2 separate regions of the Homo sapiens genome follow, and region 1 is linked to region 2. The links come from fine-mapping of genetic effects on gene expression. A gene starts in region 2. The other region holds a variant in brackets. All regions are shown on one strand. Distances are from middle to middle. Region 1 holds the start of DLG3 (discs large MAGUK scaffold protein 3). Region 2 holds the start of GDPD2 (glycerophosphodiester phosphodiesterase domain containing 2).

Evidence for each region. PIP is the estimated chance that this variant, and not a neighbour inherited with it, causes the effect.
Region 1: its variant is the best candidate, but not a certain one, in a credible set for the expression of GDPD2 in visceral fat (GTEx, PIP 0.81).

The regions. Positions count from the first base shown.
Region 1 is chrX:70,442,324-70,446,574 of GRCh38, forward strand. DLG3 (discs large MAGUK scaffold protein 3) reads left to right here and starts at 2,512. Exons shown (of 19, transcript NM_021120.4): 1 at 2,512-3,235. The coding sequence starts at 2,879. RefSeq lists an enhancer at 2,030-2,816. The variant A/G (reference allele first, on the strand shown) is at 2,331.
Region 2 is chrX:70,420,721-70,424,971 of GRCh38, forward strand. It overlaps GDPD2 (glycerophosphodiester phosphodiesterase domain containing 2), which reads left to right and starts at 2,594. Exons shown (of 16, transcript NM_017711.4): 1 at 2,594-2,662. KIF4A (kinesin family member 4A) reads left to right here. Exons shown (of 31, transcript NM_012310.5): 31 at 1-166. RefSeq lists enhancers at 1,560-2,548, 2,549-3,537.

The DNA.
Region 1 (4,251 bases), 22 kb after region 2:
TCTGTGTGGAGTTTGCACACTCTCCCCATGTATGTGTGGGTTTTCTCGGGTATTCCAGGGTACTGCGCTTCCTCCCACATCCCAGTGCACGTTAGGTGAATTGGCGTGTCTAAATTGTCCCAGTGTGAGTGAGTGTGGGTGTGTATGTGAGCGCACCCTGTGATGGAATGGCATCCTGTCCAGGATTGGTTCCTGCCCTGTACCCTGAGCTGCTGTGATAGGCTGTGGCCACCCTTGACCCTGAACTGAAATAAGCAGATTGAAAAATGAATGAATGGATGGATGGATGGATGGATGGATGGATACAAAGTACTGTAAAATAAAAATTTGTCAAGTAGTTGATAATCATACAAATGCACAATAAACTATGAGGTAAGAAAGTGCTCATCGAGCTCACCATATTCGTGATTGTTTGCTTTTGAACTGCATGGTGGTAGGGAGGTGCTCCTTACAATTTTCGCTTTGCATACATTTATTCCTTGATTCAACCCACCACCACTTCCACTGCTGTCACTCACTGGTTCACCAAAGGTTAGGTAATTATTTACTTGTTTTCATTAATCTTTCTATATGTATGCATAGCTCATATTTATTTCAATGTTCAATATCAGAAGTGTTTTGGGTCTTTATTTGGAAGCTGGGTGATGTTTTGTGACCAGAAATATGCTGTAGGAACTTAGCTCTTGTTTATATTAATTAGCCTGTGGTAAAATTGGTTTTGTTATACGTTGTTTCACTTAGTCCCAGTTGCCAAGGACCTACCAATGATGTTAAATGAGGACCTACTGTACTACATAATTCACTTATTTATTGTGTTTATTTTTGTCTGTGTCCTCTCACTAGGAGGTAAGCTCCCCAAGGGCAGGGATTTGTTCTGTTTGTTCTGTTTTATTTTGTTTCCTGCTATATCCCCAAATCCTACAACAGTGTCTGGCACACAGCAAGTGTTCCACGCATATTTGTTGAATTAAGAATGAATCTCTGAGGGCCGGGCACAGTGGATCACACCTGCAATCCCAGCACTTTGGGAGGCCAAGGTGGGTGGATCACTTGACGTCGGGAGTTCGAGACCAGCCTGGCCAACGTGATGAAACCCCATCTCTACTAAGAAAATACAAAAATTAGCCGGGCGTGGTGGCAGGAGCCTGTAGTCCTAGCTACTAGGGAGACTGAGAGGCAGGAGAATCGTTTGAACCTGGGAAGCTGAGGTTGCAGTGAGCTGAGATCACGCCACTGCACTCCAGCCTGGGTGACAGAATGAGAATCCATCTCAAAAAAAAAAAAAAAAAAAAAAAAGAACCTCTGTATCCCTAATACCTAGGTCAAGGTCTTGCACAGAGCAGGTGCTCAATGAATATTTGCTGAATTGAACTGAGATGTAAATTCTGCAGGAGAACTTAGAATAGACCTGTCGTACTAGAGTGGTTCACAGCGTGGACTCTGGAGTCAAATAATCAGGATTTGCATCCTGATTCTGTCACTTCCAGCTGTGTTACCTAGCTGTGTTAACATCTTTGAGCCTCAATTTCTCATTGGTAAAATGAAGATAATAATAGCATCAGCTTGGTAGGATTTGGGTTTGCGTGTTATGCACTTAGGACTTTGTAAAGACCCAATAATTGGTAGCTAAAAACAAAACAAGAACTGCAAAAAAGATAGTCTTTCTTGTATGTCATCCTTCCTCCATTCCCCCGACAAGCTGAGCCAGGAGAGGGTAAGGAGATGTCCTTGGACAAGTATTCCTAAGCTCTATTCCAGACCCATAGAAGGGTTTCTCTCTCTTCAAATCCCTTCTTACCTTTTCACCTGTCCTGGACTTTCATCTTGATATCCTGAAGTTCCTTCCCCCATCATAACCATGCAGGGGTGGAGTGGAGGAGATAGGGGTTTGTGGGCCAGGGACAAGGACTTAGAGCTTTCTGTTAATCCCTGTTCTAGGGTTGAGTTCTTTACTGGTGATGGTAGAAGGTCAAGTGTGAGGTCACAGTAATTTCAGGGCCTAGAGACTGAGAGAACAATAGTCTTGTGTAGGAGGCATTGACAGGACAGCGGGCCTCATATGCTGCCTTCTTCTTTGGTCCCCTGTAAGAGAAAGCACCTCCCTCACCCTGCTCCAACGTCCTTTCTGTCCATCCTGCTACCTCGTCTTTACTTCTGGTGGCCCCAGCTCAGAGCAAGCCTGGGGACCCATTGAACATCTCCCTGCAACTCCCTCTTGGAAGTGGGGTGGGGTGGAGTGGGCAGAGGACAGGCTAAAACTGGCGATATAAGGGCACAAGATCGGGTGCCTGAGCTTTCTGGTGGCCCACGTCCTCTGCCCCCGCCCTTAG[A/G]GCCAACAGTTCCCTAGAGATTGGGGGAGCTGGGGCTGAGCCTGGGGGCGCCGCTGCCTCTGTTCCTTTAAGTAGCCGCTGTTTAGCATTCCTGCCGCCGCCGCTGCCGCTGCCGCTGCCTGCCTCTGCGCGCTGATTGGCTGGAATCAACTGAGAAGGGAGCCAGGGAGAGATGCTCTTGACTCCACTCAGATCCATCCTGGGGACCAGAGCAGAAGCGGTCCTCACAGCACCCATTCTCTGCTTGAGCTCCCGCTTCTTCTTTGCCGCTGGGCCTCGGCCCAGAAGCCACGACGGGCGACACGGAGCCGCCAGTGCTGGAGGGGGAGCCGTGGGTGCGGGGCAGCGTGGGGGCCGAGGCCCCGGGACGCCCGCCCGGCCCCAGGCCCCGCTCAGCCCGGGCGCCCCCACGGGTGCCCCCCCCTTCTTGGTCCGAGCAGTGTGAGTGTGCCAGGGAGCCCGGCGGCGGCGGCGGCGGTGGTGGCGGCGGTGGCGGCGGCGTGGAATCCGGCGTGGGCTGGGGGGTCCGAGCCGCGGGGGGCAGTGCCATGCACAAGCACCAGCACTGCTGTAAGTGCCCTGAGTGCTATGAGGTGACCCGCCTGGCCGCCCTGCGGCGCCTCGAGCCTCCGGGCTACGGCGACTGGCAAGTCCCCGACCCTTACGGGCCAGGTGGGGGCAACGGCGCCAGCGCGGGTTATGGGGGCTACAGCTCGCAGACCTTGCCCTCGCAGGCGGGGGCCACCCCCACCCCTCGCACCAAGGCCAAGCTCATCCCCACCGGCCGGGATGTGGGGCCGGTGCCTCCTAAGCCAGTCCCGGGCAAGAGCACCCCCAAACTCAACGGCAGCGGCCCCAGCTGGTGGCCAGAGTGCACCTGTACCAACCGGGACTGGTATGAGCAGGTATGGACCAGCGGAGGGGGGAGCGGTGGGGCAACCCAGGAGGGCTGGAGAGTGGGGGCCTAGAGGCCTGGGATGCAGTAGGGGTCGCTGGGGCTCCAAGCCTGTGGACCCCGAGCCCTAGCATTGCAGCTGGGCAAAGAGAGGCGGTGGGAAATGTGTGGTTCCCTGTGTGTGTCTGTTTGGGGGTCTCCATTAGAAGACTGGGAGGAGCCGTGTGTCAGGGGGTAAGGGCATGGCGGAGGGGCACATTTTCCTGTGTGGGGGAATTGGGTTTGTCTCAGTGTGGGGGTTTGGCAATGTCTCTGTGTCTGGCAGGGGGCGGGAGGTTCTGCGGGGGCTGTGTGTGGTGTGTGTCTCCACCGGAGGGGAGGGGAGGGGGCATGGTGCTCTGCGTAGGGGGGACATATGTGTGTGTATGTATGTTGGGGTGTGTGGAGGAAGGCAATGGAGCTGCCGTGAATCCGTGTGGAGGAGCCCATGTGCCCGGCTCGCTGAGCTTCATCCCTTGATGCCATGAGTCCCTCTCCGTCCCAGTCCCTTTGTGTGTGAATGTGCACATGGATGTGTGGAGATGTCACTCTGAATGTGGAGAGGTCTCTGTAGAGGAGGCTGCAGGGATGGCTGTGTTTGTGTGTGTGGCTACATGTATATGTGTGTGAGCATGTGGCTGCAAGAGTGTGCACGCGTGTGCCTGGTGTGTGTGTGTGAGTGTGTGTTTGTATGTGTTGTCTCTGGTGAGAGGCGCTTGACAGGCAAGGGAGGGGAGAGGAAGGAGGCGAGAGACATGTCCCAAGCAAGGCTGAGAGGCTGCTGAGAAGGACGGACTCTTTTGTCCAAGCAGCTCTGTAGTGTGTGTGCCGGGGTGGGGTGGCGGGGGGCGGGGGGAGATTTGAAGGAACTGAAGCAAGCCTCCTCGCTCTAGAGCAGGCATGGTGCCTGGAGCCGGCAAGGGGCAGCTGCCCTGGTGCAGAGACTGGCCCCAGTGGGGCATGTCCCCCTTGGGTACCTCCAGATGT
Region 2 (4,251 bases):
CCTCTCTGAATTATGTTTCAATAGTACTCTTGATTGTCTGCCATGTTGTTGAAGCAAATGAATTATTTTTAAATGTTAAGTAAGTAAATAAACCTTAGCCCGTCTACTGTTTGGGAAGATCCTTCTGTGCTAGAGGGAGAAATAAAATTTCAACCTGTGTTCCTCAGCCCCTGAGGAAGCTATTAAGGGGATTCATTACAAGTACCTGAGCCTCCCTGCCTTATTGTAGCTGCCCTCTTTCCCAGAGGGTATTGTGGAGTGTGATGTGTCTTTATGTTGCTCTGCTACCCTAGGAAATCAGAATCGCGTTAGCAAGGCCAGTGGCCTGACCTCCACTGTAGAACCTGCCTGGCTTCCAGATTTGGGAGGAAGAAACCGCATTTACTAACCATCTCCATGTTCTTGCTACAGTTTTATTTGTTCTTCATACACACACAAAAAGGTCAACATAGATAGATGTCCTTATTTTGCAGATGAGGAAACTGGGGTATAAAGAAGTAACTTACCCAAAGTCACAAAGCTAGTGAGCAATAGAGCTAGGACCTGAACGCAGAGCTACCATCCAAGCTTCACTCTAGCCAACTCTCTAGAGTGCCAGCAGCAGCCACTTCTAATGCCCTGCAGCCTAATTTCTTAGTGTAGGAGGGGCGTTGCACCACACTGCTGTCCAGTCCCAGGACAGAACAGCACTGGCTCCTTGCATTCTCCTTTGAAAGATGCTTACGCCTTACAGTCTATCAGTGTTCTCTATCTCTGCTTAAAGCTAAAAGGGGGCCAGCCCTGGAATGCCATACACAAGCTGCTGACTGGCCTTGTAGCCTTCTGAGGTAGATGCTCACAAGCCCTGCGCTTCATATCCATGCATTCTGAATCCCAAAACCCTTCTCCCCAAAAAAGCTCCCAAACCATCCCCAAACACTCAAAAGCCAAGACTCCTCTAGAATCCACCAGAGCCCAAGCAAAAGAAATTGAGCAACAATCTGCCTAGAATGAAGCCTGCCATGGACTAGGTGACCTGCTGGTCCTCCCTGGCCTCCTGCCAGCAAGCAGCCCTGCTTCTCTTTGCATTTTAATGCCGAGGGAGCAAGGGAGCCTCTGCCATTGCCAACTAGAGCCTCTGGATACAATGGGAAGCCTGAGTGGGAGGGGGGCCAGCTCTTGGCATAAGAGAGCCAGTCTTCCTTCTCACTGTTTGAAATCCAGTGTGTGTTGGGGGAGGGGTAAGCAGGCTTATCCCCAGAGAAAACATCCTTTCCCACCAACACTGCACTAATAGCCCCCAGACCTCGAGTCACCACATCAGGCGTAATGTAGAGGGAGAGGTCAACCAAGCCAGCCCCTGGCCCCCATCCCACCCAGACCCCTGTGCTTTAGCACTAAGCAAACTATAGTGTGCTAGCCAGCCCTTCCCTGCTGATGCTGATGCTATAGTAACAGCATCTTTTCTATGTGTTCATCTTCCAAAAGCCTGTGACCCCAATATACTCTACACTCCTCAAAAGATTCTTGGAAAGAGACTCATATGCCTTAGGGACAAGGCAGCAGAAATGACACAAGTCCTGAATGAGCATCTCCTGTCTGGGGTGATGAGGGAAGGTGGGAGAACTGCTAGTGTCACCCAGGATCCACAAGGCCCATGGGGACCTCTGGTCCAGAAACGGCAACTTGCTATCCAGAGTTCAGGAAGTAGCTTGCAGCTTCTGTTGCCCAGGCTGGAGCACAGTAGCACAATCTCAACTCACTGCAGCCTCGACGTCCTGGGCTCAAGCAATCCTCCCACATCAGCCTCCCAAGTAGCTGGGACAAATGACCAAGGCTTGTCTTTGCTTTAAACCTGGCCTTGTGAGATGTCCCATGCAACTACCTAGTCTTTGGTAGGTGCACACCATCATGCCTGGCTAATTTTTGTATTTTTTGTAGAGACAGGGTTTCACCATGTTGGCCAGGCTGGTCTTGAACTCCTGACCTCAGGTGATCCACCCGCCTCGGCCTCCCAAAGTGTTGGGGTTACAGGTGTAAGACACCGCGCCAGGCTGCAGCTTCTTATACATGCACCTTGCTGAATTAGAAGTAGGAGCTCAATAGGGGAGGGAGCCTAATGAATCAAGGCTGTATTTCCAGGGAGCTTGAGACTTGATGTTAGGCTTACACACACGCACACACACACACACACACACGCCTTTCCAGTGGGCTGGCTGGGCCTCTTCTCCTCACTGCCAAGTTGCAAAGTTGTGTGGTCACCTCCCCCCCCCACACACACCAGCTTCCCGCCAGCCTGTGCCCTCAGCCCTCGCCTCCCTGAGCCAGGACAAAGCCCCGGCAGTGACTGGGAGGGGAACAGGAGGAGGGACAGAGGGATGGGAAAGCCTGCACAAAGGAATTCCTCACCCCAAGCCCCCTGACCGCCAGCGAGTAAAGAAGCAGATTTGCTCTCCCTCCCGCTTCCTCCCTCCCATCTTCCCACCCGGGCTGTGCCCAGGCCACAGAGCAGCTGCAGGCCTTGGGAGAGGACCCACACAGCCTCCTGTAGGTGGCAACAGTGCCACCTGTTTGACTCATAGGGCTGAACCGAGGACTGAAAAAGGGAGGAGGCAGACCACTCGGAGAGGAGCTGGGAAGCAGTGCAGAGAGGAGAGCGGAGCGGAGCTGCCGCTGAGCAAAGGTGTGAGGGTTCGGGAAGGCTGGGGGGCTACAGGTGGGAGCTGTGGAGCAGAGACCAGCTCCATCCCACTGGGATTGGGCCGGGGGATTGAATGGCACCCCTGTCAGCAACCCTACTTGGGGTTTTCAGGCTGCTCAGACCCTGATCCCATCCTACAGGCAGCTCCTGAAGGGAGGGGACTCTGGAAGGCAGTGTCTGGGGTGCAGGGGTAGGACCCCAGGGGAGGCAAGAGCTTAGAGCAGGCTATCAAACCAGCTCCAAGATGGGCAGAGGCAAGGGCTTCCCTTTGGGTTGGCTTTTTACCGGGAAGGGTCTCGTAGAGGGGAGGGGTTTCCTTCCCCCAGCTCCAGCTCCTCACCCCTACCCTAACCCTCCTTTCCCAAGGCAGCATAAAGAGGGCAGTTCAGAAGCAGCCACACCTTCCTGCTTACCGGACCCACCCACTGTGCACCCCTCTAAGACTCCATAGCCTCGGGAGAGCTCTGAGGACAAGAGGTCCTGTCCCTCAGCCCGCACGCACACATGCTCACACACTTTGGGTGTATCCAGGGGCTCCTTTACATACTCAAAGTCACCTAAAATCATATTGTACCGACAGCCAGTTGTGCTGTCGCGTGCAAATGCTGACACAAATCACATACCGTCTCGCGTAGAATCAGTCACGTACCCAGCCAAGTCTGGGGATCAGCTCAGTCAGCCAAACCCAGAAGCATAAGGTACAGGGGTCCCCTGCCCCAAGACAACCACACCCCGCATACACACCTTTGCCCTGCGTTTGTTGTACTTTCACCAAAGCTAACTTAGAGGGTGGGGCTCCTAAAGGCGAGTCTGGGCTTCTGGTTGGGGTTGGGGGATGACTGGGCAGGAAAGGGCAGGACTTGAGGGGAGGCTCTGTATTTTGAAAATCCAAAGATTCCTTTAGAAGACTGGGAGTGACCCAGGCAACATGTTCACCTCAAGTCTTTCTCTTTTTGGCAGTGCCCTTTGTCCCCTGAGAGGTGGACACAGAGAATCTTTCAGGGATTTGTGATCTGAATAATCTCTATAACCATAGCAACTGGCCAACTAGCTGGGCCTTCCTTAGCCCCAGGTCAGAACTGTAACCTTTGCTTCAGGTTACTCCTGCTTCCTGGGCTGGAAAGCAATTCAACATGGGGTTGCCTCCAGCTTGGCCAAACCTGCTTTAACTTGCTGAACTGAGTTTGTCCCACCCTGGGCAGTTTCTCTTGAGTTCTTACCCCCAGGGCAAGCACTCCATCCCCAGAGGTGTGTGCTGTTAAATGGGGAGGAGCTGGAGAGAGTGGATATGAATCCTGCCCGAAAAGAGGCTGGACCTCTTGGGTGTCCCACTGACTCTCCAGGTAACAAGATTAAAGGGAAACGAAGGCTCTGGAGACTGTCTCCCATTGCCAGGCTTGCAGCTGGGGCTGCTCGCCTCATCCACTCTGGCACTCTGGGCCTGCCCCGTGACCTCCGTTGCTGAGCAGCGGCCCAGGCCTCTGCCTCTCCCCCGGGCTCCTCAGATACACTAGGAGGGAGACTGGGATCTGCCCTCTGCCAGGGTCCCTGATGGTCGAGTGTCCCTTCCC